Linked DNA regions of Homo sapiens. The protein of the gene in region 1 interacts with the protein of each later gene in a biochemical or structural test. Each region holds a gene or a part of one and is shown on either strand. Other genes may lie near its edges. The genes, in order: NFIC, TBXT, ELF2 and FOXL1.

Evidence for each region.
Region 2: the proteins of NFIC (region 1) and TBXT form a complex in vitro, tested with the Homo sapiens proteins (one study listed by BioGRID).
Region 3: the proteins of NFIC (region 1) and ELF2 form a complex in vitro, tested with the Homo sapiens proteins (one study listed by BioGRID).
Region 4: the proteins of NFIC (region 1) and FOXL1 form a complex in vitro, tested with the Homo sapiens proteins (one study listed by BioGRID).

Annotation. Positions count from the first base shown.
Region 1 is NC_000019.10:3,376,569-3,383,591, reverse strand, and holds part of NFIC (nuclear factor 1 C-type), read right to left. Parts: intron 1,881-7,023; coding exon 1,349-1,880; intron 1-1,348.
Region 2 is NC_000006.12:166,164,852-166,171,846, forward strand, and holds the start of TBXT (T-box transcription factor T), read right to left. Parts: upstream 3,001-6,995; 5' UTR 2,741-3,000; coding exon 2,535-2,740; intron 2,006-2,534; coding exon 1,741-2,005; intron 990-1,740; coding exon 855-989; intron 11-854; coding exon 1-10. UniProt on the Homo sapiens protein: Involved in the transcriptional regulation of genes required for mesoderm formation and differentiation. Binds to a palindromic T site 5'-TTCACACCTAGGTGTGAA-3' DNA sequence and activates gene transcription when bound to such a site.
Region 3 is NC_000004.12:139,174,204-139,181,668, reverse strand, and holds the start of ELF2 (ETS-related transcription factor Elf-2), read left to right. Parts: upstream 1-4,450; 5' UTR 4,451-4,702; intron 4,703-5,102; exon of another isoform or gene 5,103-5,164; intron 5,165-5,320; exon of another isoform or gene 5,321-5,514; intron 5,515-7,465. UniProt on the Homo sapiens protein: Isoform 1 transcriptionally activates the LYN and BLK promoters and acts synergistically with RUNX1 to transactivate the BLK promoter. Isoform 2 may function in repression of RUNX1-mediated transactivation.
Region 4 is NC_000016.10:86,574,567-86,581,548, reverse strand, and holds the start of FOXL1 (forkhead box protein L1), read right to left. Parts: upstream 3,001-6,982; 5' UTR 2,826-3,000; coding exon 1,788-2,825; 3' UTR 1-1,787. UniProt on the Homo sapiens protein: Transcription factor required for proper proliferation and differentiation in the gastrointestinal epithelium. Target gene of the hedgehog (Hh) signaling pathway via GLI2 and GLI3 transcription factors.

The DNA.
Region 1 (7,023 bases):
TGGCTACACGCATGATCTTCTGGAACCTCCCATAGCCCCATCCAGCTACAGACTGATCATCTCCACCATTTGGCAGGCAAGAGAAACTGAAGTCCAAGAGGGCCACGCAGCCAAGAAGCTGCAGGACCAACCCTGCTCTTAGCACCGGGACCAGAGGCACAGGCATCAGGCCTCTCATCTCCACGCTCCTGCCAGGACCCCTGGGGCATCTCCTTGTTCACTGTGGCCTGGCCATCCTGCAGAGCTGAGCTCAGCTGCACCTCCTCCTCTGGGAAGCCGCCTTGGATTTCCTCAACCCCACAGAGCTAGCTGGTCTCAACATCAGGCATTTGACCACCGGCAAACACCCCTCTGGCAGGGCCAGGCTCATCAGGCCTCTGCTGGCATGGTCTGAGAGTCAATCAACCAACAAGCATTCACAGAAAGCGGTGCCAGGACTCTCTTGGCTCTCCTCGGAGGGCTGGGATGGCCTGTCCCTCTCCTCTCCTCACCCCTGCTCCCAGCAAGGCCGTCCGTTGTGCCCAAGACCATCTAGGACATTCTCATCCCCCTGAGACCTCAAGGGCCTTCCTGCCTCCTCCCTCAGACGTGAGGGTGAGATCCTGCCTCTACCATTGGAGCGCCACAGCCCACCTGCCTCCTCTGTCAAAAAAACCTCCTTGTACCATCTCTCACTTGAGACCTCTGCTAGGCCTGCCTCCTCCATCTGACCTCCACATCCCATCAGCAGCCACCCTGGGCCCTGCATGCACTGGCCTCCTCCCTCAGACGCTCCTTGCACCATATCACTTGCATTAGACGCTCTCCTAGGCCTGCCTCCCCCCTCAGACCACCACATCACATCTACACATGCTGGCTTCTTCCCTCAGACCCTCCTTGCCCCGTGTCACCCGGCGTCAGACGCTCTCCCAGGCCCGCCTCCCCGCTTGGACCACCACATCACATCTACACGCACCAGCCTCCTCCCTCAGACCCTCCTTGCACCATGTCACCCCCATCAGATGCTCTCCCAGGCCTGCTGCCCTGCCTGGACCACCACATCACATCTATATGCACTGGCCTCCTCTCTCAGACTCTCCTTGTGCCATATCACCTACTTTACATATTCTCCTAGACTCGCCTCCCCTCTCAGACCACCACATCACATCTATACCCACCAGCCTCCTCCCTCAGATGCTCCGTGCCCCGTGTCGCCCCCATTGGGCACTCTCCAAGGCCCACTTCCCCTCTCAGACCACCACATCATACCCACACGCACTGGCCTCCTCCCTCAGGCCCTCCTGGCCCCGTGTCACCACCATCAGACACCCTCCCCGCTGGCCGCTCCGCTCAGGCCACCACACCTCACCTCGCTCACGCACGAAGTAGGCCAGGTAGAGGTCCAGCTCCTTGACGGCCACGCCAATGTGGTGCGGCTGCACGCACAGGACCGGGTGACCGCACTGCGCAGCCTTGACCAGGCGCTCGCCGTCGGTGCTCTCCAGCGGGATGCCCTTGAACAGGATGACCATGACCAGGTCCAGCCGCCACACCTTGTCCGCCTGCCGGAGACAGTCGATGCGCCGCATCTTGCCCTTCTGGTCGGGGTTGGAGAGCACGCAGCCCGGCGCCTTCTTGCCGGTGATGCTCAGCACGAAGTCCTCGCGGCACTCGGGCCGGATGTCCTTGCGCAGCTTGGCCAGCAGCCGCGACGCCCACTTCTGCTTGACCTCGGGCTTCTCGCCCAGCAGCTCGTCCTTGACCGCACGCTCCTCGTCCTTCGACATCCGCTTCTCGTGCTTCTTGAAGTACTTGCGCTTCCGCGCCTGCAGGTTGAACCAGGTGTAGGCGAAGGCGCGGACGTGAGGCAGCAGGGCCTCGATGAACGGGTGGAACTCATCCTGCAGGCCGGAGAGGCGAGAGGTCAGGAGCGCCAGGGACGCAGAGGGCGGACCCACTGCCCGGCCCCGAAGGCTGAGGTCGGAGGGGCCCTGAACAGACCCGCAGAGTGGGAGGGGCTGGGCAGAGGTGGGCAGGGGGTCGCTGCGGACCCGTGCACGCCGCCGGAGGCACGCAAAAGGCCCGGGGGACCCAGGAGAAGTTTATCAGGGACCTGCAAGAACCCATCGCCCAGATGAGCAAACAGACTTGGACTATGTGAGAGGCACAAATCAAGGCGGAAGTTTGTGGAGGATCATTTTTTTTTTTTTTTTTTTTGAGACGGAGTCTTGCTCTTAACGCTAAGGCTGGAGTGCAGTGGCGCAATCTCGGCCCACTGCAACCTCCACCTCCCGGGTTCAAGCGATTCTCCTGCCTCAGCCTCCCGAGTAGCTAGGATTACAGATGCCCACCACCACGCCCAGCTAATTTTTGTATTTTTAGGAAAGATGGGGTTTCACCATGTTGGCCAGGATGGTCTCGATCTCCTGACCTCTGATCCGCCCGCCTCGGCTCTCGGCCTCCCCAAGTGCTGGGATGACAGGTGTGAGCCACCATGCCCAGCCGTGGAGGACCTATGTTGAACCCCAGCATGCAGATGGAGCAAGCTAAGGGGGCCAGGTGGAGGCTCATGGACAACCCATTGTACAGACGGGTAAAACTGAGGTTGGGAGAACAAAGATGTCAGGGACCTATTCTCTGCCTATTGCAGCTAGGGTTGGGCTGGGTGTAATGGCTCACACTTGTAATCCCAGCGCTTCGGGAGGCCGAGGAGGGAGGACTGCTTGAGCCCAGAAGTTTGAGACCAGTCTGAGCCATATGGTAAAACCCCATCGCTACAAAACAAATGAACAAACAAAATCAAAAAAACAAAAATTAGCCAGGTATGGTGGTTTGCAACTGTAGTCCCAGCTAGTTGGGAGGCTGGGGTGGGAGGATCATTTGAGCCCAGGAGTTTAATGCTGCAGTGAGCTGTGATGGTGCCACTGCACTCCAGCCTGGGCGACAGAGCAAGACTGTCACAAAAAAAAAAAAAAAAAAAAAAAGCCTGGGCGCAGTGGCTCACACCTGTAATCCCAGCACTTTGGGAGACCGAAGCAGGTGGATCACCTGAGGTTAGGAGCTTGAGACCAGCCCGGCCAACATGGCAAAACCCCGTCCCTACTAAAAATACAAAAAAATGTAGCCAGGCATATTGGAGCACACCTGTAATCCCAGCTACTCAGGAGGCTGAGACAGGAGAATCGCTTGAACCTGGGAGGCAGAGGTTGCAGTGAGCTCAGATTGTGCCACTGCACTCCAGCCTGGGAGCCTGGGTGCCAAGAGTGAAACACTGTCTCAAAAAAAAAAAAAAAAAAAAAAAAAGAACAAGGCTGGGCACGGTGGCTCACGCTTGTAATCCCAGCACTTTGGGAGGCCAAGGCGGGCAGATCACGAGGTCAGGAGATTGAGACCATCCTGGCTAACACAGTGAAACCCCGTCTCTACTGAAAAAAAAACAAAAAAATTAGCCGGGCGTGGTGTCGGGCGCCTGTAGTCCCAGCTACTCAGGAGGCTGAGGCAGGAGATTGGCATGAACCCGGGAGGCGGAGCTTGCAGTGAGCCGAGATTGCGCCACTGCACTCCAGCCTGGGCGACAGAGCAAGACTCCATCTCAAAAAACAAAACAAAACAAAAAAAAACTAGGGTCGGCGGCCAAGCATGGTGGCTCACACCTGTAATCCCAGCACTTTGGGAGGCCACAGTGGGTGGACTGCTTGAGCCCAGGAGTTCAAGACCAGCCTGGATGACATAGCGAGGCCCCGTTTCTACAAAATCAAAACTTAGCTAGGTGATGCATACCTGCAGTCCCAACTACTTGGGAGGCTGAGGTGGGAAGATCAATTGAGCCCAGGAGGTCAAGGCTGCAGTGAGCCAAGGTTGCGCCATTGATCTCCAGCCCGGGTGACAACGTAGTGAGACCCCTGACTCCTGACTCAAAAAAAAAAAAAAAAAAAAAAAGAAAGAAATAAAAAAAAATGAAAAATGAGGCTGGGCGCAGTGGCTCACGCCTGTAATCCCAGCACTTTGGGAGGCTGAGGCAGGTGGATCGCTTGAGGTCAAGAGCTTGACACCAGCCTGGCCAACATAGTGAAACCCCATCTTTACTAAAAATACAAAAATTAGCTGGGCATGGTGGCACACGCCTGTAGTCCCGGCTACTCAGGAGGCTGAGGCAGGAGAACCCAGGAGGCAGAGGTTGCAGTGAGCCGAGAGCTCGCCACTACATTCCAGCCTGGGCGACAGAGTGAGACTCCGTCTCAAAAAAAAAAAACCCGGCTGGGCGCGGTGGTTCATGCCTGTAATCCTAGCACTTTGGGAGACCGAGGCGGGCAGATCAAGAAGTCAGGAGTTCAAGACCAGCCTGGCTAACATGGTGAAACTCTGTCTCTACTAAAAATACAAAAATTAGCCAGGCGTGGTGGCGCATGACTGTAATCCCAGCTACTTGGGAGGCTGAGGCAGGAGAATTGCTTGAACCTGGGAGGTGGAGGTTGCAGTGAGCCAAGGTCACTCCACTGTACTCCAGCCTGGGTGACAGGGCGAGACTCCATCTTGGGAAAACAAAAAACAAAAAAACAAAAAATGACTACGAAAGCTTGTTCCTACAGAGCATATGTACAGACAGGCCTGGCTGAGATCCACAGGCAGACACTAGGCCCGCCTGGAGGTTGAGGGCTGCTGGAAGGGTGGGGGGATTTCTGCATCAAAAGATAAGAGATTCAAGTGCACCAGGATTAATCAGAGGGAGGAGAAATCCCGGGTGGAGTCCTCTCCCTCCTTTCCCCTTTCCATGAACCCACTGTGCTGATACAGAAACAGACCAGAGAAGCAGACGCTCAGCCACAAAGGTTCAGAACTGGGGAGAGGGGCCACCCCGTTCCCTGCAGACCCACCCTGGAGATGGAAAATCCGAGGGCTGGGAAGGCGCTGAGACTGGGCCAGAGCTGGGACTTCAACCTACTCCCAAATCATGACAAATTGGTGTCTGAGGGCAGTCACAACACCCATGCTACAGATGAGGAAACTGAGGCCTTGAGGGGGAACCCGGCCATGGGGGACAGAGGTGGACTGGAACCTGCACTCATCTGACTTCCCCACGAAAATAACAGCAGCCCCTTGAAGAGAAATGTGGGGCAGTGGGAGGCCCCCAGCTCCCTGTCTGGGTGTGGGGAGGCCCCTCCCATTCTTCCCATTTTCCAGCAAGGGAAACTGAGTCTGCATAGCATTTGGGATCTCAGCTGGGGACTATGGCTAACGCCTGTAATCCCAGAACTTTGGGAGGCTGAGGTGGGTGGATCACTTGAGCCCAGTTCAATCCCAGCCTGGGCAACATGGCGAAACCCCATCTCCTTTTTTTTTTTTTTTTTTTTGAGACAGAGTTTCACTCTTGTCACCCAGGCTGGAGTGCAGTGGCACAATCTCGGCTCACTGCAACCTCCGCCTCCCAGGTTCAAGAGATTCTCCTGCCTCAGCCTCCCGAGTAGCTGGGATTACAGGCACACACTATTACAGCCACACACTATCATGCCCAGCTAATTTTTGTATTTTTAGTAGAGATGGGGTTTCACCATGTTGGCCAGGCTGGTCTTGAACTCCTGACCTCAGGTGGTCCACCTGCCTCTGCCTCCCAAAGTGCTGGGATTACAGGTGTGAGCCACTGTGGCCGGCAGGCAAAACCCTATCTTTACGAAAATTACAAAAATTAGCTGGGCATAATTTTTGTGGTGCGCGTCTGTAGTCCCAGCTACTTGGGAGGCCGAGGTGGAGAGATCACTTGAGCCCAAGTGTTTGAGAGCAGCCTGACCAACATGTCGAAACCCCGTCTCTACTAAAAATTACAAAAATAATTAGTTGGGCATAGTTGCTGTGGCGCACACCTGTAGTCCTAGCTACTTAGGAGGCTGAGGTGGGAGGATCACTTGAGCCTCAGAGGTCGAGGCTGCAGTGAGCTGTGATTGTGCCACTGCACTCCAGCCTGGGGGATAGAGTAAGACCCTGTCTCTAAAAAAATAAAAAATAAAATAAAACAAATTAAAAACATCTGGGACCTAGTTTCTCAGCCTCAAGGTGGAATAAATACAAGGAACAAGAAGAGAAAGAGAAGCAAAACTGCCTTTCCATCTCCCTGCCTTGACCAGGCTGGGCTGGGCATTTCGGACAGGGGTGATCCCTTCCTAGCACAGAAAGCTGTTTTCCTCCCCCCAGCTCTCAAAGGACTACATTGTTATTAATGATGCGATGATTGTTATCATTACAACTTATATTGCTATTGGATTTTTTTTTTTTTTTTTTTTTTTTGAGACAGAGTCTCGCTCTGTCACCCAGGCTAGAGTGCAGTGATGCGATCTCAGCTCACTGCAAACTCTACCTCCCGGGTTCACGCCATTCTCCTGCCTCAGCCTCCTGAATAGCTGGGACTACAGGCACCCGCCACCATGCCCAACTAATTTTTTGTATTTTTTTTTTTAGTAGAGACGGGGGTTCACTGTGTTAGCCAGGATGGTCTCAATGTCCTGACCTCGTGATCCGCCTGCCTCGGCCTCCCAAAGTGCTGGGGCTACTGTGATTTTTATTACTTTTTTTTTTAAGAGATGGGGGTCTCAGCCTGGTGTGGTGGCTCACGCCTGTAATCCCAGCACTTTGGGAGGCCGAGGTGGGTGGATCATCTGAGGTCAGGAGTTTGAGATCAGCCTGGCCAACATGGCGAAACCCCATCTCTACTAAAAACACAAAAAATTAGCCAGGTATGGTGACAGGCGCCTGTAATCCCAGCTACTCGGGAGGCTAAGGCAGGAGAATCACTTGAACCCGGGAGGCAGAGGTTGCAGTGAGCCAAGGTCGCGCCATTGCACTCCAGCCTGGGCAACAAGAGCGAGACTCCGTCTCAAAATAAATAAATAAATAAATAAAAAAGACAGGCGTCTCACTGGAGTGCAGTGGCACGATCTTAGGTCACTTGGGCCCTGAACTCCCAGACTCAAGCGATTCTCCCACGTCAGCTTCCTGAGTAGCTGGGACTACAGGTGCAAACCACCATGTCTGGCTAATTTTTATTTTTGCAGA
Region 2 (6,995 bases), on another chromosome or scaffold:
GAGCTGTGATCTGAAAAACAAGAAATTGCATTTACTAGTATATTCCCTATTAGCCAGGGGATTTAATTTGGCACCAAGAAATTGAGAAATGCCAGTACCACTTTTAAATATTCAAATATAATCAGACTTCTTTCCACATACAGTTTTCTATTTGGAACTGAAAATAGCTGAGTAATTGTACAGAGTAGCATGCTTATGAAAAATTTTCAATGTCAATGTTCTGAGTGGGATTCACAATAAATTTAACCTACTACTAACAATGTTCCATGTGTATAAATCAGAAATGGCTGAAAACACAGTCTGGGGCTGCTTAGGAAATAGAGACCTGGAAGTTCTAGTTTTCGGTCAACGTCAACACCAACAAGGTATCCAACTAATGTCGAATTTGCAGTACTTTGGGGTTGGGCTTAGGCATAGATTTACAGGCACCTATGCAGTAGCTTGTATCTAGTTGAGTCTTCACACTGCAGAGATTTGAGGGGTTGCCCCCCCACCCTTTGGGGAAGATTTCCAAGGAAGGACATGCCCCTCTCTCACTCAAGTCTTGTTCTCAAGAAATTCTCACACCATTTAACCTGAATGCTTTTTGGATCTTTTCATTTTGAGCATTGAGAAGTTGTTTCTAGTTTTAAACACTTGTATGGAGAATTCAAGGGGAAAATGTTTGAATGGGGACTTAATTTAAACAGTTCTCTCCTGTGCTTCCATTTCAAGTTCCGGAATATTATTTGAAAGGGCAGGAAGCCTTCCTCTCAGTGCGGGTTAGCGCGTCTCCCCGCTCCTCCAGAATCTCCACGGAGCAGCACACCACACCGCAGCACACCGGGAAAGCGATCCGCCTCTGTCCTTCTCACCTCCTCGTTCTGATAAGCAGTCACCGCTATGAACTGGGTCTCAGGGAAGCAGTGGCTGGTGATCATGCGCTGTGGACCCCCAACTCTCACTATGTGGATTCGAGGCTCATACTTATGCAAGGAGTTCAGCATGATCTGAGGGAGACAGATACAGGATTGGTGGCACTGAAAGGCCTGCGTTAAAACAGCAAAACATCCATTTCTCCAGGATGCAGAAAGTCCTCTGGATCCCAAGAAAGTGTCTCTGCTGTTGAGGGAAGTGGGGTTCCACCAGGGGAGGCTTCTCCGCGGTTTATATGTGCTATTCCCACAGCTTGTTTGGAAAAGGGATGTGAGATGCTACACACCATTAAAAGCAATGAATGCTCATCACAAAATCCTTTCACCTGGTGGAATAAAGTACTAAGGCTTTCAGGAAGGCTATGGTCATTTTTAAAAGACTGAGCTTGTTTGCAACTTGCCTAACCTGGGGTCTTCCAGGAACAATCCCCGACTAAAGAATGTTCTTTAGAAAAGCACGACTTTACAAGTTTGTTCCGACTCCACGCAGTAAGTACTGTGGCGCATGTTTAAATTTAAATGCGACTTTGCCATCAAGGCTGATATCTTTTCCACCCCCAGGAGAGTTTAGGGCTAGACAACGGAAGTTCCCCAAAAGCTCCAGTCCTTCAAAGGGGAGTGCTCCCGCTCCCCGTTCGCCAGGCGTGGATGTTATCAGCTTAGTATAAACAGCGCTAAAGGCCTTATTAGAGAAGGCTGTGGCAGTTTCTCCAGGGCAGACGTCGCCTCCCGTTCAAGCAGCGTCCCTTCCCACAACCCCCGTGCAGAAGGCGCAGCGCGGCCCCCTCCTCGCTGGTCCCAGACCTGGCGGGCTCCTCACACCTACCTGGCCCCCTCCGTTGAGCTTGTTGGTGAGCTTGACTTTGCTGAAGGAGACGGGAGCCTTCATCCAGTGGGCCCCGAAGTTGGGCGAGTCGGGGTGGATGTAGACGCAGCTGGGCGCCTGCGGCTCCGGCTTGCCCCCCGGCACCCATTCCCCGTTCACGTACTTCCAGCGGTGGTTGTCCGCCGCCACGAAGTCCAGCAGGAAGGAGTACATGGCGTTGGGGTCCAGGCCAGACACGTTCACCTTCAGCACCGGAAACATCCTCCTGGAAAACACGGGGCGGGCGCAGGAGGACCCCGACACTGACCAGGTAGGCCGGAGGCAGAAGCTGGGCACAGAGGCCTCAGTTATTTCGGGGCACAGAGGAGCCCCCTGGGGAACGTCCGAGGGTGACTCCCAAGCTCCCCCTTCCCCGAGCCCTGCCAGGTCCAGGTGGCCTCCTCACCATCTCCACGGCCTCGGGAGGGAGGGGAGGAGAGGACCTGGCGAAGGGTTTCAGTGCAGGAGGCCACATCCCGCGGGGACAGGCGGGGACCAGGGCGCGCCTCGCGGGTCCCGGGATGCCTCCGAGGTCGGGACACCGAAGTGCGCGTTCCTCCTCCCCAAGCTTCCGCGGAGAAAGCCCCAGAAGAGGGGCTTGTAGAAATGCACTCGAGGGAGTTAACCAGAGCGGGAACAAACACAAAGCCCTCCTCCAGGAGAAAAAGGGTTCGACCTCCGGGAACTTGCCAGGTCCCCCAGGCTGCCCAGGCGCTGGAGAGCGCGGCGCGCGCGGGCTCCGGACGCGCACCCACCTGCCGTTCTTGGTCACGATCATCTCATTGGTGAGCTCCTTGAAGCGCAGCCACAGCTCGCTCTCCTCCAGGCCCACGCGCAGTTCGCGCTCTGTGGGGTCGCCCTTCTCGCTGCCCGCCTGCAGCTCATTCTCCACGGCGCTCAGCAGGTGGTCCACTCGGTACTGCAGGCTCTTTCCCGCGCTCTCGGTGCCAGGGGAGCTCATCCTCCCGTCCGGCTCCCCTCCCCGCCGTCCCCGAAGCCCAGACTCGCTACCTGAGATCCACCTTCCCTGCTCTTGGCCGCCGCCCTTCCGAGAAAAGGGGCCCCTTGGACCGAGACCTGCGACGGCTCCCGGGTCCCGGGTCCCGGCACAGACCCGGGAGGAGGGCGCGGACCAAGACTTGGGGGGAGGGGACGGGGGCAGAGGGGTGGGGAGAAGTTATTCCACTTGAACTCCCCAAGGCTCTACTAGTGTAGGTCTCTGGGGACCGAAATTCAGTGCCCTCCCCATAAATAGAGCCGCGGCGGCAGCGCTGGGGTGCTCGGCGGATTGGGCCGCGCACGCTTTGAAGTGCCGGGCAGCCTCCCATTGGCCGAGAGCGGCCATATCAGACCCAGCCGGGCGGGTCTGGGAGGCCGGGGGCCAACAATGGGCTCCCGCACGCCTGTTTCATGTAAATCCGGGGCCCCAGCCCTGCGAGCCCCGGCCCAGCCCCTACACCCCCGCCCTTCTCCAAATGTTTGCACCTCCATCAAAGCGGCGGGGCAAGCCCCGGAGGAAGGTAAGCTGGACGCCCCGGCCTGCCCCAGCCCGCCCCAGCCCGCCCCAGCCCGCACTTCCGCGAGGGGCTGCCCGGCAGCCTGCGATGCTCCCTGATTCCCGCGCGGGGTCCTCCTCGCTTTCCCAGCGCGCCCGGATCCCGCAGCCGCGCCAGGCTGGAACGTTCGCGCGGCCTCACCTGTCCCCGCTCCAGGCGCGCCTCCCTCCCCTCCCAGGGACGAGCGCATTTGGCCGGGCTTTGGGATGCGCCGCGCTCGTCTCGCCGCAGTAGTAGTGCTGTTCTCGCGCCTCCGATGCCTCAACTCTCCAGTCTGGCAGTTTCCGGTGCACCTGTCCCCACACGTCCCTCGCCCACGGAGCCCCAGGCGGCGTTACGCACACCCAGGATCGTGGATCAGCCTGCCCCGGCGTCGGGTGTCCCCGCGGCTCTCACCATCTGGAAAAGGAAGGTCCGCGCGCAGAGAGGGAAATGGACGGAAATAAGCAAAAGCAAAACAACCCCTTCTGAGAAGTGTCCTCCTCGCTCTCTTATAAAAACAGGACTTGTTGCCGAGGTCAGCGCGCGCATCGAGTGTGCCAGGCGTGTGCGTGGTTTCTGCTGTGTCATTGCTTTCACGGAAGGTGGGAGAAGGTCGGGGCTGGCGGGGTGGTCCGGACTAGTGGGACTCGGGGCGCTTTCCCCGCCCGGCCCAGCGCCAAGCGGTGTCGGCAGCGGTTGTTTTATTACCTTTCGGTGAGAACTTACGCGAGGAGAGCGAAGGAGAGGTGACAATGAGCAGGAAATAGTTCAGTGGGGTCTCTTTAAACAGTAACATTCCTCCTAAAACGGGAGCCCAGGAAGGGGGAAGGAGGCAGAAGCTCCCCCTTCCAAGGCCTGGCTTTGCGCTTCTGCACACCTCGCCCATTCGCTGGACGAGGGCCTGCCTCGGGTAGCAGCCTCTGTTTCCCGGTCTCCTGAGCGGGCACCCCAGCCCCAACCCCTCTAGAGAAAGCCTGCGCATCGGGTGGGGCAGCGAGTTCAGAGGAGTCTTGCGCCCTAGCAAGGGGGCTTTCCCGCGGACATGGTATCTGCGCCCCGCGCTAAGTCTCCCCTGCCCCCTGCCCCCTGCCCCTCGCCCCTCGCCCAGCCGGGCTCGCTCCGGGGTCGGGAATTGCTGGGGAAGCCGAAGGAGGGATCCCCGCCCGGGACTCGAGGGATCGACCCGCCTCGCGGTATGCGGAGGGCTGCCAGGAGCCAGTCCCGGGGAAGGGTGCCTGCCGCCCGTGGGGGACAGGGCTCCTTCTCTCCCTTCTCCAACTTACACCGACGAGTCAGGAAGCCGGAGCGTCTAGTCCCTGTCCGCATTTCTCAGTGTCTTTTGATGTCTGGGATGCATGGATATTCCCAGGGGGCTGACCCGAGGTGGGGAAGTTTCCTTCTAGAAAGAGGCACCAAAAGGACCTCATTTGCTCCTGACGCCGGACCCTCCTGACACGCCTTCACTGGCTCATCGGGTCCTGGGCTTTGGGGGAGAGCGTGGTGCGTGTTACTCTCCTTACTCCGGGTATTAAAATGTCTAAGAGGTCATCGCTTTGGCCCAAGGCCTCCCGAGGATAAGATAAAAGGGAAAAGTGGAGGGGAGGTGAAGGAGGAACGAGGGTGGGTCCCAGGCAATTGAGGGCCTCGGAACCCTAGGCACGGGAGCGAAACCTCTCCTGCGGCTTCAGGGCAAAGGAGTCCCGAAGGCTGGATCCCTCCCCTGCGCTCGGACGGCGTCGCGGCCGCTTTTCCCACAGTCGGGAAGCGCCAAAGAAGACTGGAGGGTTTAACAGATCGCTCTAAAACTGTTCCGAACAGGAGGGGCACGGCCAAATAAGAATACAACTTCAGCAGGAAAGAATATTCCGTTTCTAACACGCGTAATAAAATTTCTACTCTCCAGAGAGAATGTCTGAAGCATTGAAGAGTACGACCCAGGAATTGAACCACCCAAGTCGGAGGAGGTAGAGGTTGGAAGTCACCGACTTTGGCCAGCACTTGTGTAGTGTCACCTGTCTTCACTTTCTAACGTTTATTTTTCCTCCCCTTTCTGTGGCTGATTTTCTGATCTTTGTTCCTCGGTTCCCAGGACCAGGCCCACTCCCTCCGCCTTTTCAGCGAAGGCTGCAGTGCATGACAGTTTACAGCCAAAACTTCCTCCAGCCCGGCTATAAAGAATTCCCAGTTAATAACAATGCGCTTCCTTGGGAGGAAAGAGGGGCTGAGGCACCGCCAGCTGTTTCGCTCCCAGGGTCTATCTCTCCTTGGCAAGCCCAGCCATTCAGAGAAAAACAAGACAAAGCCTTATGGCTGGGCCTCAGGATGCAACTGTCCCACCGAAAACATGCTTGAAACATTTTATAAGAAAACACACACACACACCCCACTCGACTCCCAGAGAGGCAGTTTTCCTGGGCCCAATCCCTTCTGAAAAAGCAAAGCCATTTATCTTTAGAAGCAGGCAACAATGAAGCTGTAACAGGCTCAAGGAGGGGTGGAGGACAGCCTCGCGTGACTCTTACCCCACACTCTAGTCCCTCTCTTTCTGCAAGAAAAACAAATGAATTTCTTTTCTGATTATATATGTACTCCTTGTAGAAATATTATATATGTATCTGTCTTCATATATATGTAAAACAGTCACCCACAGTATCTGTGGGGGATTGGTTCCAGGACCTACAAAGATGGCAGAATCCAGGGATGCCCTAGTCCCTTGGCATGGTATTTGCATATAACCTATGGACTTCCTCCATGAACTATAAATCACTTCTGGATTACTTATAATACCTAATACAATGTAACACTATGCAAATAGTAGTTATACTGTATTGCTTTTTATTTGTATAATTTTTATTCTTTCATTATTGGGGAGAGGGAGTTTGGAATGTTTTCTATCAATTCAACCAACCACGGATATGGAACCTGTGGCTATGGAGGGCTGGCTGTATGTTTATCTCTCTCTATGTATATAAATGCTAACCTCAAGCACTAAGCAATGTTCATATTTTGGGGTGTTCCTCGTCTTTTTTTCATTTTGTTCTTCTCATGAGCTCCTTCTCCCACACTGACTAAGCGGACTGATCGCAAACAGTCACAAGTTCTACATTAGAGATGACAGCCATGTTTCATGGCCAATAATTCTGCCACCAATTGGTTTATTTGTCTCTCCCATTAAAAGAAACCCAATGGCTTTTGTTATTGCTTTAAAAGGTGTGTAACGTAATTCTTTAGACTCTTTACCATTGAAAAATTTTTAAAGCCCATTGGGTTGTTTGAGGTGGTTGTGGTTTTGTGGGAAAGAACAGAGACTTGGTTTTTTAAAGTCTTCCTCTCAGGACAAGGATCCCACCCTGTGCACAGCCGGCCCCTCCCTGCTGCTCTAGGGAGAAGGCTTCGTGATGTGCTCCCTGATCTGCAGGGAAGCTGTGGCCATGTGGGGTGGACGCAGGGACTACCGTCAGCCTCAGGCTGCGTCTCAAAACCTGATCCCATCCAAGCTATTTTTTTGGAGTCAGTGGGCTTCGTCACACATGACAGTGTGTGGTTGTTTTAGTGACAGGAGTTCACAGATTAACAACAAACCAACCTGCCCAGTTGAATGTTTGGGAATGTGACAATCCCAAACCTTTCTCCTTAAAACTCTAGTGCTTCAGCTCCTATCTCTTTGGAATTCAAGTT
Region 3 (7,465 bases), on another chromosome or scaffold:
AGCCTCCCCAGTAGCTGGGACTACATATCCATACCACCACACCTGGCTAACTTTATTTTATTTTCTTTGTAGAGATGGGGTCTCAAACTATGTGATCCTCCTGCCCATGCTGGTCTTGAACTTCTGGGCTCAATGATCCTCCCACCTTGGCCTCTCAAAGTGCTGGGATTACAGATGTAGCCACAGCACCCAGCCAAGGATGAAATAATTTTAAAAAAAATCACTTTCCTATATATTGAAGAAAACAAAGGGAGAAATAACACAGAGAAAAGAAGTATAAAAGCATTATACCTAATATGCATATAATCATTTATATTTAGTATATAAATATATGTATATGTATATACATGCACAGAAAAAGGCCTAGAAGCTTAAAGGCTAAATTTTCATTTATGGTTATCTGTGGAAAAGTAGAGGTAGGGGATGGCTGCGTAAGTGTGAAGGGTAAGTGAGAAGTGGGAAGGGAAATGGAGAGGGAAGGTGAACTTGGGTTTTAAAAAGTTTATTTTGAATTATTTGAAAATTGATGATGAGAATGTATTAATGAATCATTGTATAATTAAAAAATAAACTATAATAAAAATAATTAAATAAAATATAAAAATAATTAAAAAATAAACTATATAACATAAAAAACTATATAACATAAAAAACAGCAAAAGCAATCCAGTTACAACAGAGATTTCCTATTCCATGATCATTAGCTTGCTACTAGGACTACTGGTCACACTAGACTTTTCCTTCTGACCCCTGTTCTCTAGAATGCTTTACTGTAAACCAGGGGTGTCCAATCTTTTGGCTTTCCAGGGCCACACTGGAAGAATTATTATCTTGGGCCACACATTAAATACACTAACACTAATGATAGCTGATGAGCTTAAAAAAAAAATCGCAAAAAAGTATTTTAAGAAAGTTTACAAATTTGTGTTGGGCTGCATTCAAAGCGGTCCAGGGCCGCATGCAGCCTGCAGGCCCTGGGTTGGACAAGCTTGCTGTAAAATTTCTGGGTTCCTTACTCCGCTGGCCTCCATAAGGGATGTGTTTAAGAACCATAGCCAAAGAGCTGCCTGAGACACACCAAGTTAGGCACCTTGCAGGCCAATATGAAGGAAGCAGATTGCTCTTTCTGCTGTTGTTTCAGTCAGCTATCACAACACTAATTCCAGGAACCAACTACTCCAAAACACTATTACTCCAAAACGCTATTACTCCAAAACACGGCTTGAAACAACAATCCTTTATTCTCTAGGTTGCTGACCCCAAGCTGGGACTGGCTTCAGACCTGCTTCATATTTCTTTGACCAGCAAACTAGCCAGGTATGTTCTTCACATTGTGAAAAACAAGAGTGCCAGAGAGGGAAGGAGAAACATGAAATACCTCTTGAGGCCAGGCTCAGAACTGTCACACTCACTTCTGCCTATCTTCCTTTGACCAAAAGCAAATGGACTGATCTAAGCTCAACATGAACAGGATGGAGAAACATCCTATCTCTACTGAGAGGAACTACAAAGCCGTATTTCAAATGGCATGCATGCATGGAGTAGTGAAAAATTGGGAACAATAATGTTATCTACCACTGTTATCCACCTGGGACTTTCCAGCTTACTGCCAATCGGCAGTGGGAGAGAATTTCTTCTCAACGTGGCTGACAACAGAAATTATGTGACTTGGCAGGTGATATCTGTCCCTAACAACAGGAATCAGTCTTTGTCTTTGCCGGCTCCTTAGTATGCTATGTTATGTTATGAAGATGCAATATTATTGATTATTAATTAATTCCTTACAAATATCAAATTGGGCAATGGTTCCCATAAGTGATAAGTTATTTACAAGAAGTGAGATAAAAAGACTCCCTTAGAAAGGGTGCTCTGTTTGCAGAATCCTGTTTATTGTGTATTAAAGATTTGAATGTTACCAAATTGTTACAAATTCTTTAGTTCAAAAGGGTGTCAACAGTCCCATGATTTAGAACTCAGGAATCCAGAAAACTTTGTCAAGAGTTAAGAGGATCTTTGATTAACAGTCACGGTCTCCAGGTTTCCTCTGTGTTCAAGAGTAAAAATTTCTTAAATAAGAATAAGAGCCCTCGGACTTGCTTTTTTTTGAGACGGAGTTTCGCTCTCGTTGCCCAGGCTAGAGTGCAATGGTGCGATCTGGGCTCACTGCAACCTCCGCCTCTCGGGTTCAAGCGATTCTCCTGCCTCAGCCTCCCGAGTAGCTGGAATTACAGGCACACACCACCACACCCGGCTAATTTTTTGTATTTTTAGTAGAGACGGGGTTTCACCGTGTTAGCCAGGATGGTCTTGAACTTCTGACCTCAGGTGATCCGCCCGCCTCGGCCTTCTAGAGTGCTGGGATTACAGGAGTGAGCCACCGCGCCCGGCCTTTTTTTTTTTTTTTTTTTTTTTTTGAGAAGGAGTCTTGCTCTGTCGCCCAGGCTGGAGTGTAGTGTTGCGATCTCGGCTCACTGCAACCTCTACCTCCGGGGTTCAAGCGATTCTCCTGCCTCCCGAGGAGCTGGGACTACAGGCGTGTGCCACCACGCCCAGCTAATTTTTGTATTTTTAGTGGAGACGGGGTTTCACCATGTTAGGCAGGCTGGTCTCGAACTCCTGACCTCAGGCAATCCACCCTCCAGGGCCTCCCAAAGTGCTGGGATTACAGGCGTGAGCCACTGCGCCCGGCCCAGAGTTGCTTTTTAAGAAAGGAAGAGAAGACTCACCCCCAAGAAAATAGAGGCAACAGCAGTATTAACAAAAGAAAGAGATCATTACATTCTTAGGCTCTTCAGGGATTTAAATCTGGAGCCTCCTGCAGCTTTCTGACATTTGAGCCTTACTCTAGGGTGATTTCCACGGTTCCCACGTCCCTTTCAAGAGAACAGCTATCACTTATATTCCTCAGTGTTTCTTCTTTGCTCCAGACTGGTTGTGAAGCCGTAAAAAGGGTAACGCTGGAGCCCAGAAATCAGCTGGTGAATACCGCGCCAGGTGCCAGGTCCATCGCGGCGAGGCTGCAGGAGCCCTGGAGGGGAGCAAAAGGAGCCCCGCGCGCACCGGACAGGCTGTGCTCTTTGTTAAAGAAACAAATACAGAAAACGCCGCGGCGGGGAATGGTGGTGGTGAAGAAATAGACTGAGGCGTTTGTATGCATTAACTGTGCCTACAAAGCCCATTAAAGAGACGCTCCTACACAGGGCAACCCACGGCACCGTGTCATTGGCTTTTGTGCACTTGAAGGCGCGTGAGAGTGCCCCGCTCGAAGGCTCCCCTTTGTGTGAAAGTGTGGAAACCAGAAGCGTGCAGCCACTGCTGGGTTTTCGTTTTCGAATTCGCAGGCACTTGGGCCAAAATACTCCCACACCAGAACACTCTCTCATTCTCGCACCAACAACACTCAGACTTGAGTTACTTCTCCGTTGCGGACCGCGCAAGGAGCGACAATGGCTAGGTGCGAGTGCCCGCAGCTCCCCGGGCAGCTCCAAGGGGCCGCCCGCCGCGCTCCGCAGCTGCGCGCTGGGCCCAGCCACCCGACAGCCAGCAAACGCCGGCACCAACCGCCGCGCGGCCGGGCTGTTGGGCGGGTGGTAATTTCTGGGAATGGGGCGGGGTCGCGGGTGTACTACGCCCGGCTTTTGCTAGCGGGGAGGAGGAGCTGGCGGCGCCGAGGGGCGCGAGGCTGGCGGGGCGGTGCGCCACGTGCGTCACCGGCCGGGGCGGGGCCGGCGTCGCGCTCCTGCCCGAACCCCCACCTTTCACTAAGCCAAGGCTGAGGAGTGGGAACTGGAAAGACCGGGCTAGGAGTTTTTGCAAAACCTCGCCCCCCTGTAACTGTCAGACTGCCCGACTGTGGGGCCGTCTCCGGAGAAGGGCGAGAGTCCTGAGTTGGGGATGCGGTGACGGCGGGGCCTGCGGGGGCCCTGAGTGGCGAGGGTGTGTGCGTGCGGTCCCGGCCGGCGGGGGAAAGCCGGCGGGCGCTGCAGGTGCACGCGCGGCCCCATCGGCCTCACACGCCTGCCCCGTGCGGCAGAGCCCCCTGCACCAATCCGGGGCTGGAGTGGAGAGCGAGATCGGGGAGCCCTGGGCAAGGAGCCGGACAAGTGACGAGCGTCTTTACCTGGGAAGGCGGGTTTGGGAGAAGTTGGGCGAGGAGAAGAGGGCGGGATTCAAGACAGCAAAAGAAGCAGGTTCGGCGGGCTGGTGGGGGCCCGAGGGCGGCGGGGCCCCGCGGGGTATAAATAGCCGGCCCGCGTTTGACAGGCGCTGCGGTGACTGGCGGTGCCGCCCCCGCCCCCCCGCCGCGTGGGGAGGGGAGGAGCACTCTGAGCTGGCGGGGAGGGGGAGGCGGACTCCAGTGTCCTGGTGGAGGCGGCAGGAGGCCGAGGGGGAGGAGCCGAGGCGGGGGGTGGAGGGAGGGGGCCGGGAGCGGAGCGGGGCGGGGGCAACCATTGCTCCCAGCGCCAAGCTCTGTGTCGCCGCCGTCGCCTAGGCGGTTGGGGGTCGGTGGGGCGGCGCGGGCGGGGGTCGCTGCGCGGGGCGGCGAGCCTCTGTTTTGTCTCCTTCTCTCCCTGTGGAGCGGCTCGGGCTGCTGGGGAGGCCCCGGCTCCCTCCGGACGCTCGGCCAACGGCGGCGGCTAGTCCGCGGCCCTGCTGAGAGGGAAAAGGACGCCGCGGTCTTCCCAGGCGTCGCGGAGAGCAGGTAAGAGCGCGGGCAGCCGAGGCTGGTGAGAGGGAGCGCGAAGGGCGCGGCGATAAAGCCTGGCTGTCCCGACTGCCGCCGCCTCCCTCCGCGCCCCCGCCCCGCGCTTGTGTTGTTTGCTTCGGGGTTTGCGGAGGGGTTTTCCGGCGGCTGCGGCGGTGACACCGGCCGGGGGCTGGGGGAAGGGGGCTGAGTGTCCCCAGGCAACGGTCGCGGAGCGGGACTTGGAGAAAGGGGAAGGCGCGCTGCGCGCCTGCCCGCGGGGAGCGCGGGGCGCGGGGCAGGGCTGAGGGAAGAGGTTACAGACCCCGGCGGGGGGGATGGGCCGAGCGCAGCTGGTCTCTCCGTGTTTACATCTCTGCGCGAGTCACCTCTGCCGAGAAGCGGACTGAACTGACCCGCCTCATCCCGCGGGGAGGCCAGGGCGGGGGTCCGGCTCCGGAGGAAGCGCGTCCTGGGAGGGTTTGTGTAGGGCGGGAGTCTGCGGCCGGCGCCGGGGCTGGGCGGCGAGCTCGGGGCGGGACCTGGGAGGCTCCGGCCGCTCTGGGTGGCGGGCAGGCGGGGGGGGGCGCTGGACACCAGTTTCCTTCCCTGTCGTGCCTTATCGCCGCCGCTTACCTTTCCTTCCCGGCGCTGCTAGCTTGCACGACAGGTTGTACTCGGCAGTTCTTTTATTCTCGCTCTCCACGCCGGCACCGTGCTGCCATCTCCCCCTATTCCCCGGGAGGTAGGGAGGCTTTGCTCGGATCGGAATCTGTTTCTTAAGCAAAACAAAAACGGGCTCGTAACAGGCACGTCCAGTGACCGCCTTCTGGATCCTCGCGAAGCTGGTCCTCAGGGACCGCGCGACGGGATGGTCTAGGGGCGCGGAAGGAGGACAGGGAGGGCTCTGCCAGGGCTGGATGCTGACTCTACCCCAGGAGCTTTGTGATCAGGGTAGCCGAGCCCTCTCTTCTGCTCCATTTGGGCATTTTTATTCCATGTCCATAAAGGACTCAAAAAATATTCCGTGACACCAAGAATAATCCAGATCGCACAGTTTCTAATCTTTTTCCCTCTGCCAGCATCCTGGATGGACTCTTTCTAGGAGGCAGATTCGCTGCAGAATAGCCTTTAAGTTTAGTACTTCATTAAATGAGGAAGAGGGGGACACGTCATTGTAAAACTGTTAAAAATTCCCCCCTTTCTTGTGTTCATGAACATTTACTTCAGCTTAATGGTTTAAATTGTAATCCGGTGATGAGAGAATAGTAATCGTGTGTTTGATAATCAGATTTGTTTTCCTTTTTATCTGTGATTCTCTATCCTGAAGTAAATTATGCACTTTCTTTGGTGCCAGAATCACGGAAGGATGTATGCTTTACTAAGAAAGGATTGGATATTTGTGTTTCAGAGTTTCTTCAAAAGGTAGAATGACTTATATAGGACTGGAAACCATTAAATTACATTTAAGGGAATTTAGGAATAATAAAACTTTTTATAGAGCATTACAGTTTACAGAGTACATTCATGTAAATATTATTGAGACGATATCTAGTAGTTAAACACATGAAATAGAAAATTGGAATATCCTGGGCATTTGAAGTTTGAATATTTATGTCAACCTATTTTTAAGTTTAGTGATTTAACTCATTGGATTTATCATTGCCTTTCATTTCAGACATAAATACTCATTTACAAAATAGTCAGCTTGAGTATGGTTGGAAAGAATTTGTAACTTTGGGATTTTTCTGTCCTAAGTAAACAGATTGGTACCTGTGGCCTGTAGGGTCTGCTAATGTTAGTGGCTTTACCTGCTCATGTTGTATACCATTTTTGGAGGAGTAACAGCTTCACGATGATATAATTCACATACTAGTCAGTTCAGTTTAAAGTGTACAGTTTGGTGGGTTTATTAATTTTTTAAAAAATTACTCCATTTTGCAGGTGAACAATTCAGTGGTTTTTACTACAATTGTCCATCGGTATCTGTTGGGGATTTGTTCTAGGGCCTTCCTCAGACACCAGAATCTATGGATGCTCAGGTCCCTAAAATAAAATGGCATAGTTGCTGGGTGCAGTGGCTTGTGCCTGTAATCCCAGTTATTCAGGAGGCTGAGGTGGGAGGATCTCTTGAGGCCAGAGTTTGGACACCAACCTGGGTGACAGAGCAAAATCCTGTCTCCTAGGAAAAATGAATAAAACTGACATAGTATTTGCATATAAACTCTGCATATTCTCTTGTATGCTTTAAATCATCTCCACATCACTCATACTACCTAATACAATGTGGATGCTATGTAAATAGTTGTTATACTGTGTATTGTTTAGGGAATAATGACCAGAAAAAAGTCTGTACATGTTCATTTACAGACATAATTTTTTTTTGAGTAGTTTCTGTACCTCATTGATTGAATCCATGTATTCAGAACTCATGGATATGGAGGGCCGACTGTATATTCAGAGTTGTGCAGCCATCACTATACTCAATTTTACAGCATTTTAATCATCCCCCAAAAGAGCCCCATATCCATTAACAGTCGCTTTTCATTTTCCCTCAGCACTCCCAGTCCTATGCAACCACTGATCGACTTTCTATCATTATAGATTAGACTGTTGTGGACATTTTATGTAAATGAAACCATAAATGCGGTCTTTTGTGACTGGCTTCTTTCGTTTAGCATAATGCTTTCAAAGTATATCCATGTTGTAATATGTGTCAGTACTTCATTTCTTTTTTTTTTAAAATCTATTTTCTTTCTTTCTTTTTTTTTTTTTTTTAAG
Region 4 (6,982 bases), on another chromosome or scaffold:
GGCTGGCCTGAAGTTTCCCAGAGTCTTCCCACTGGCCTGGGTAGAACCCAGTCGTGGAAGCCTGGTTCAGCATGGATAGGAGAATGAATTTTCCAAAAGTCACCTCTATGCCTGTGAATTATCCAATTACTCTGCCGGCCTGAAATGTCCTTTCCAACACATTGACCAACAGGCCCTCTGGATTCAAAGTTTGTCATCATTTTTAGACAAGTCCTGGAAACTATTTTAAAAGCGATCTTAAAGACCTCCCTCCCAACCTATTTCCAATAGTGCGTGACTACTTGTGTCTTTATCACATGACATAAAATAAAAGTGACTTAGAGGTTCAGAAAATTGCATTTCAGGGCCTCGAAGATTACCCAGCTAGAGATGGCATAGAGGTCGGTTGCATTTCCCCGGAAGCTGCAAGCTGAACTTGGTTGTGAACATCTCAATGTTCTTAATTAGATTTTCGTTGCAGACCTCTTCTCCCCTCCCCAGACTGCCAGTCACCTCTTTAAGGTTTTGATTTAGTATCAGCCTCCAGGCCTGCCTGGCAGGGCTGGGAGGGAAGAGCGGGCGGCTGCAGGGGGTGCGGGGGCCAGGAGTGTCTGGGAGATTCCTGCCATCAAACCTCAGGTCCTCTGGGGCCCAGAGAGGCCCCTTCCAGCGGACACCAGCACGTCCCCTTATTCTTCCCCCGCATTCATCCCTCTCTCTCTCTGCATCTGCTTTTGGTTGTTTCACCCAACTTTTTAAATTAAATGTAGTCTTTCATTATCTGTTTCTGAAAAATATAGCGACCACCAAGCCTGGATCTTGAAAAAACATGGAAATCAAAACTCTGACATTGTCCAAGGCATATCCCCTTCCCCTCACACCCTTCCTCATGGTATCCCTTGAAATATTTTGATCCCTTAAAAACAAAAGCAAAAGGATAGGACGTCTGCTGTTGTGGCTTACATAGCTGCATGTGTATTGGCTAATGAGCTATCGTAATGCAAGAAGATGTTATATAGAGTGCACTTTCTTAATAAAAATTGTTAATACAAGCGTTTTCAAAGGTCAATGCTTAGAGTCAAGTATTTATGCAAAGAATGAAACATGTTCTTTTTACTACCCAGAAAGAAATTAAGAGAAAAAGTCTCTGTTTAAAATAAAAGTGTTATTGCTCTGGGTGGTTATCAGCTTCTATAGCTGAACATTGGTCATAAATCCTCATCGGGCCCTACATCTCTCAGAAAACCTGAAAACCCGGGGTCACCCCCGGCACCTCCACAACTTCAAGTCAGGAACAAACCCAGCTGTGACCACCCACCACCCAGATGGGCTCAAAACCAAGGCCTGAGCCACACGGCAACAGCGAAGCAGGCGACGGTCATACGGGGGTCCCCGGTCGAAAGGACCTCAACTGCACCTGTAAGGCCTGCCTTGGGTGGTCTGCGGGCCCTTGCATGCCCGGGACTCGCAGGACCTGCGGTGGGCGGCTGAAGACCACACTCCATTAGACAGGTCAAACGTCAAGGAATCTCCCGCGGTGGAGGTCCCTGCAGGGCCCACGTGCGGTGCCCACGACCCCGCGGGGATCTTTTAAGTCTCCGTAGCTGCTCCCAGTTGCTGGGAAAAGTTTGCTTCGGAGAAGGCAGGCGAGCGCGCCCACCTGCGCGCAATGGTTGGTAACACTTCCCTGAACCCACAGGCCGACCCAGGCAAAGATCATTTTAAAATCCTCCGCCGGTGGGAGCTGTGGCCTTTCGCTCAGCGGAGGCTCAGGCTGGGCCGGGAGAAGAACCGTGCCATTGTTTGCTTTACTGGAAGTGGAGTACCGTGTCGGGAACCTGCAGGGGGAAATAAGAGAGGAAGGGGATCCCGAGCTGGTAAAAGCCGCCCTGGACATGCGGGTCGAGCATCAGGGAAGCGTTGAAAGGCGGACGGAGGCTGGAGGAGGCGGCCAGGAGCGAGGCACCCAGACGGCCGCCGGGCCCAGGCTTGGCACCCCCTAGGAGTTCGTCCCCTGAAGGCGGCTTCTGGCCCTGCTTTCCCGCCAGGATGCTGTCTATGCTGAAGCTCTTGGACTTGTCGGAGCTCTTCGGAGAGCTGCGGGAGGCGGGGCGCAGAGGGGACCCCGGGCCGTCCCCTGTGCGCGCTGCCTGGCCGACCGCCACGGCCGCTGCGCCCTGGGCAGCGTCACCAGCGTCCTCGTTCGGGGACGCGGTCCCCGGCCAGTGGAGGGGCGCCGGCGGAGAGGGGCCGTCCAGGAGGGGCGAGGGGCCCGCGGGCGCTGCCTGCAGGCGGGAGATTGCGGGGCCCGAGCCCCCTGCCCCGCTCCCCGCCTCCGGCTGCGCCTCCGCGCTGCGCTGGTGCGTCTCGGCGCGGGGCCTCTTGGCCTCCGGGGCCCCGGGGCCCGGCTTGGGCTTCCTCTTCCGGCGCCGGTAGTTGCCGTTCTCAAACATGTCCAGGCAGCGGGGGTCCAGCGTCCAGTAGCTGCCCTTGCCCGGCCGCCCTTTCTCGCGGGGCACCTTGACGAAGCAGTCGTTGAGCGAGAGGTTGTGGCGGATGCTGTTCTGCCAGCCCTGCCGGTTGTCGTGGTAGAAGGGGAAGCGGTCCATGATGAACTGGTAGATGCCGTTGAGCGTGACCCTCTGCTCGGGCGCGTCCTGGATCGCCATGGCGATGAGCGCGATGTAGCTGTAGGGAGGCTTCTGCGGGGTCTCGGCCCGGCCCGAGGCAGCTAGAGCAGCCGCGGGGGCGAAGGCCAGAGGGAGGCCGGGTCTCTCGGGACCGTACAGATACAGCATGGGCGAGGCGGCCAGGGCAGGCAGCCGGGGATCGAAGAGGTGACTCATGGCAAGCGAGAGCCTGCGCTGCGCTCCCCGCAACGCAGGAGACCCGGGCGGCCTAGGCACTGCGCCCCGCGCCGCAAGGGCCCTCCCGGGGAGCCAGCCGTGCCTCTGCCTCTGGCTCTGCCGCTCTCCCCGGCCGCTCCGTGCTCTGTCCCTTCTTCATGGCTTTAAAAATGTTAAATAATTGTTGTAAGTTTGCTGTTATATGTTGACTTAGCCCTGGAAAATAAATTGTCTATGATAAACAGTCCTTGTGTTCTCAGCCCACCCACATTAATTAAAATTTCATTGCTGAAAAACTCCAAGCTTTTCCCTCCACGTGTCTTTTTGATACCAGCCAATCGGTTTTGGGGCTATTCCTTCATTTGTTTATAGAATTAGTCTGTTGATAAGTCCGCCCACCCAAGTTGAATCAAGCTGTGTTTATTTGGAAAAATTTCCGGGCACCCAATATATAAACGCACTGATCTGATGTTTGAAATATCACGTCCACCCCTTGACGCTGTAAGCACACACAGTCAGTGAGGCAGGATGTAGACTGCGGTGGCTCAGAGCAGGGTCTGCTGAGCCAGGAAGGAGAGGTGGAGATGGGGGTGGGTGTGCAGGGATGAGTTTTACGCTGGCCTGGGGGAGCCCCATAACGCCAGGGCCTCCCACAAAAGGTCTTTTCTTCTCCCAGGCTTAACCGGAGATATCGAGATGCCACAGTCTAGTAAAACACTTTCTGAGGTCCTAGGAACCTTTTAGATTGGGGCAGGGAGAGTATCTAAGAAGCCTGAGTGTCTGCTGAGAAGGGGATGCGGCCCTCCCTGGAAAAACAGGTGGCAGACCCAGTAGGAGGTGGCACTCTCTAGGGACCTGCTCTCCCACACCCTCCCTTCCAGGGCTCTCCGGAAATCGGAGGGAAAGTGGACTCTGGGAGCCCAGTCTCTCTGGAAGGGAAGGCCTAAGGCACTGGGGGCCTGGGGAAGAGCTCATGGTCCACAGCTCCATTGAGGAAGGTTTCAAAATAAACCCATTTAGAGAACCGGGGGCAAAAGTAAGGTCCTCCTGATGGGGCCAAGGTTGCAAGAGAGGAACACCATAAAAGGAGGCCGTGGCAGCTGGCGCGGGAGGCCTGGTATTTGTGAATGTGGGTCTCCAGCTTTATATTCTGGGCTTTCCTGTTTATAACAAGGAGGGGGTTATAACAACTTTACAAGTGCATGCAGCTGGCCCGTGATTACATTAGGCATTTGGGAAGCCTGCTTGCTCTCCCTGTATCCACCCACCCTGGGGTGTACGCGGCCCTCCACCCCCATCTCATTTTACATTTTCCCACATCACTGTTTGAATAAAAAATCCTGAATCATGCTGATTTCGAAGGGGGCCTCTCCTCCCCACTCCACCGGTTAGGGTAAGGGTAGAGGCACCTAGTGTGACTACTTCCTGTTTATGACCACCCCCTGAATATTAAAACACACACACACTGTCACACACACACCCACACACACACACACACATTCGGATAACTGGCGTCTCATTGAGCAAATCGTGTGAGCATGTCAAAGAGATGAGGGAAGGGGGAGGATGGCAGGTGGGTGTAGAAATGGCCCACTGCCAGTGGGCCAGGAAGGAGGGAGAGGCACCGAGGGCACTTACAGGGGTAGGGGGAGTGTCTGCCGCTGCCACACCCGGCTGAGGATGTGAGTGCCCAGGTAGCCTCTGAACACGGAAACGTGGCGGGCATCCTTTTTCAAAATGAGAAAATCAGAAATAACCCGTGTGTTTGGGGTTCCTGGGTATCCAGCCCATGGAATAAGTAGACCGCAGGGGAGCGGGTAAATTTAAAATACCAAAAAGGAAGTCGCAGGAAGGGTGGAAAAACCGGCCTGGGTACCGGCACTGCCTGCGGGAGCGACAGGCCAGTCCCTGGGACACCTCGGGCCTCCCTCCGCGGCCCTGCTCCTCTAACGTGGGTCCAGCGAGCAGCCCGGCCGCGCCCGCCTAGGTCCTGGGGGTGAACCTCTGGCCAGGAGGGGCGAGGCTTTGTCTTTTCGTTACCACTCGCTCTCACCCGCGTACCCCTTTCAAACTTGGGGTGAAGAAACCTCAATGCCAGCGCCTTTGCAACCCGCAGGCCCCACAGTCTCTGGGGTCACCCAACCTCTCCGGGGCCGCGCGCCCCCAGCAAGCTCAAGTTTGGATCCAGTTCCTTCTCCAGCCTCGGCGCTCGCTCCAACACACCCAGACCGAGAGATAAACCGGTGTCACTATGCAACCCTTTCCCCACCTTCCTATCCCACAGCCCCTCCTGGAGCTCCCCACGCGGCACCCGAAGTCCAGCACGCACATCCCTGCCTCTACCGAAACTCCCGCCGTCCCGGCGCGTCTTCTAAACTCTAAGGCAAATCCGAGCTTGAATTTGTACGGTGATAAATACTGCCCGATTTGGTAATGGGCGGGACGTGGGCGGAGACACGGGAGGCTGGTGGGCGGGGCACCGATAGTAAAGCAAAAAAAAAAAAAAAAAAAAGAGAGCGAGAAAGAGACAGAGAGAGATTAGGAGAGAGAGAGAAAAACCAAAAAACAAAAAACAAATGCCCACGCTCTAGTCGCGGTTTGGAGACGCACACCCAGCCCCGCGCGTTTGCAGAAGTGTGCAAAGTCTCCGGGAGGTTTCAGCTGTAGAACTCCGGCTTTGCGCCCCAGCCCCGCTCCAGAGCGGGTTTGAATCCCGGGCTCCCGGGTGATTGATGAGTTTGTAACCTGAGCCTAGGAGGGGCCTCTGTTAGAAGGAACCCCGCGCTGGGGCAATTTCCATATTTCCGGGGAGTGCAGGCTCAAGCCCTAGGAGTCCGAGAGCGGATGCGCCCTCGTGCGGAGGCTCTGTTGGCTGAGGCCAGAGCGAAGGGCCTGCGGGGGGCAGCCGAGCTGGGAGACGGCCGGGCGGGCCTCTAGAACGAGTGTCCTAGAGAGCCAGATGGGGACACTGAATGTTCCCTGTAGATTCATAAGCCTCGGATCCCAGAAAAGCGCGTCATCTGAGAAGTCACTTGGTGAGGGCTCACCTCCCAGCCTGCAAGAAAAGCCTGAGATCTCTGGCCTGCCCGGATGCTCCAGAAGGACTGGAGTTTCCAACTCTGAGGCTTGAGCAGAAACGGGGTTCAGCGTGGGATGAGGGTAGTCAGCCTCCTTCCCAGTCCTGGGACAAAGCGCATGTGCGTTCCTCAGGGAGGCAGATCAGAGACCAGGCATTGGTGATGAAAACGGCCTCAGATAAAAAGGCTGACGGGTGAGAGACAAGAGCTCCTCCCACTGCGCCCCAAGCCATCCACTCAACCTTCCTCACTGGAAAGCAAAAAGCAGAAACCTGAGTTAACAGTAATCTGTGTCGCTTTCCAAACATCTGCATCACTTTTCCAAACGTAAAGACAGTTACCGCATGTACGACTTGTGTGTGTGTTACATACGTATGCATGATTCAACCGCGTGTAGCATGTTTGAGAAGAGCTGCGGTGGAAAGATGAAGGGTTTAGCCCCTCACCTTACTGACAACCTAAAAACATTGGAGACAGATGATAATAATATGAATAACTAGAATGTACTGAGCCATTTCATCCTCACAGCAGCCCTAATAGAAACCTTTGTCGCTCCCATTTTGCAAACCAGGAAACTGAACAACGCCCTGTAAGTTAACCTGCCTCAGGTGTCCCATGAGGAAGTGCTCCAAAGACAGAAAATAATCTTACAATAGCACCAGGTGTGGACACTCAGGGCTCCATGGAAGTTCTCTTGCCAACTCTTACTAAATCTGTGAAAGGCAGGCGTGGCAGATTCACCCATTTGACAGATGATGAAACTGAGGCTCGGCACATAACACCCCAAGACCCTGAAAGTAGGAAATGGCCGCACAGGGACCACAGCCCACGTGAGTGTCCTCCAAAAGTGGGTGCTCTGGGGTCTGACATGCTCAGGTATCTGGAAGGACTCAGAGGCAGAGATTGTCTGGAGTAGACAGTGGGAGAGGGGCCCTCCAGAGAGGAGAGGGTGTGCAGCACCCCTGGAGCTGGGAGATTCAGGACATTATAAGAAAATCCCAGAGTCCTTGCTTATGTTCCACCAAAACCCAGAAGACCTCTTCCTCCTTCCCTCCCCGCCCACTTTGAAAAGAGTGGAAG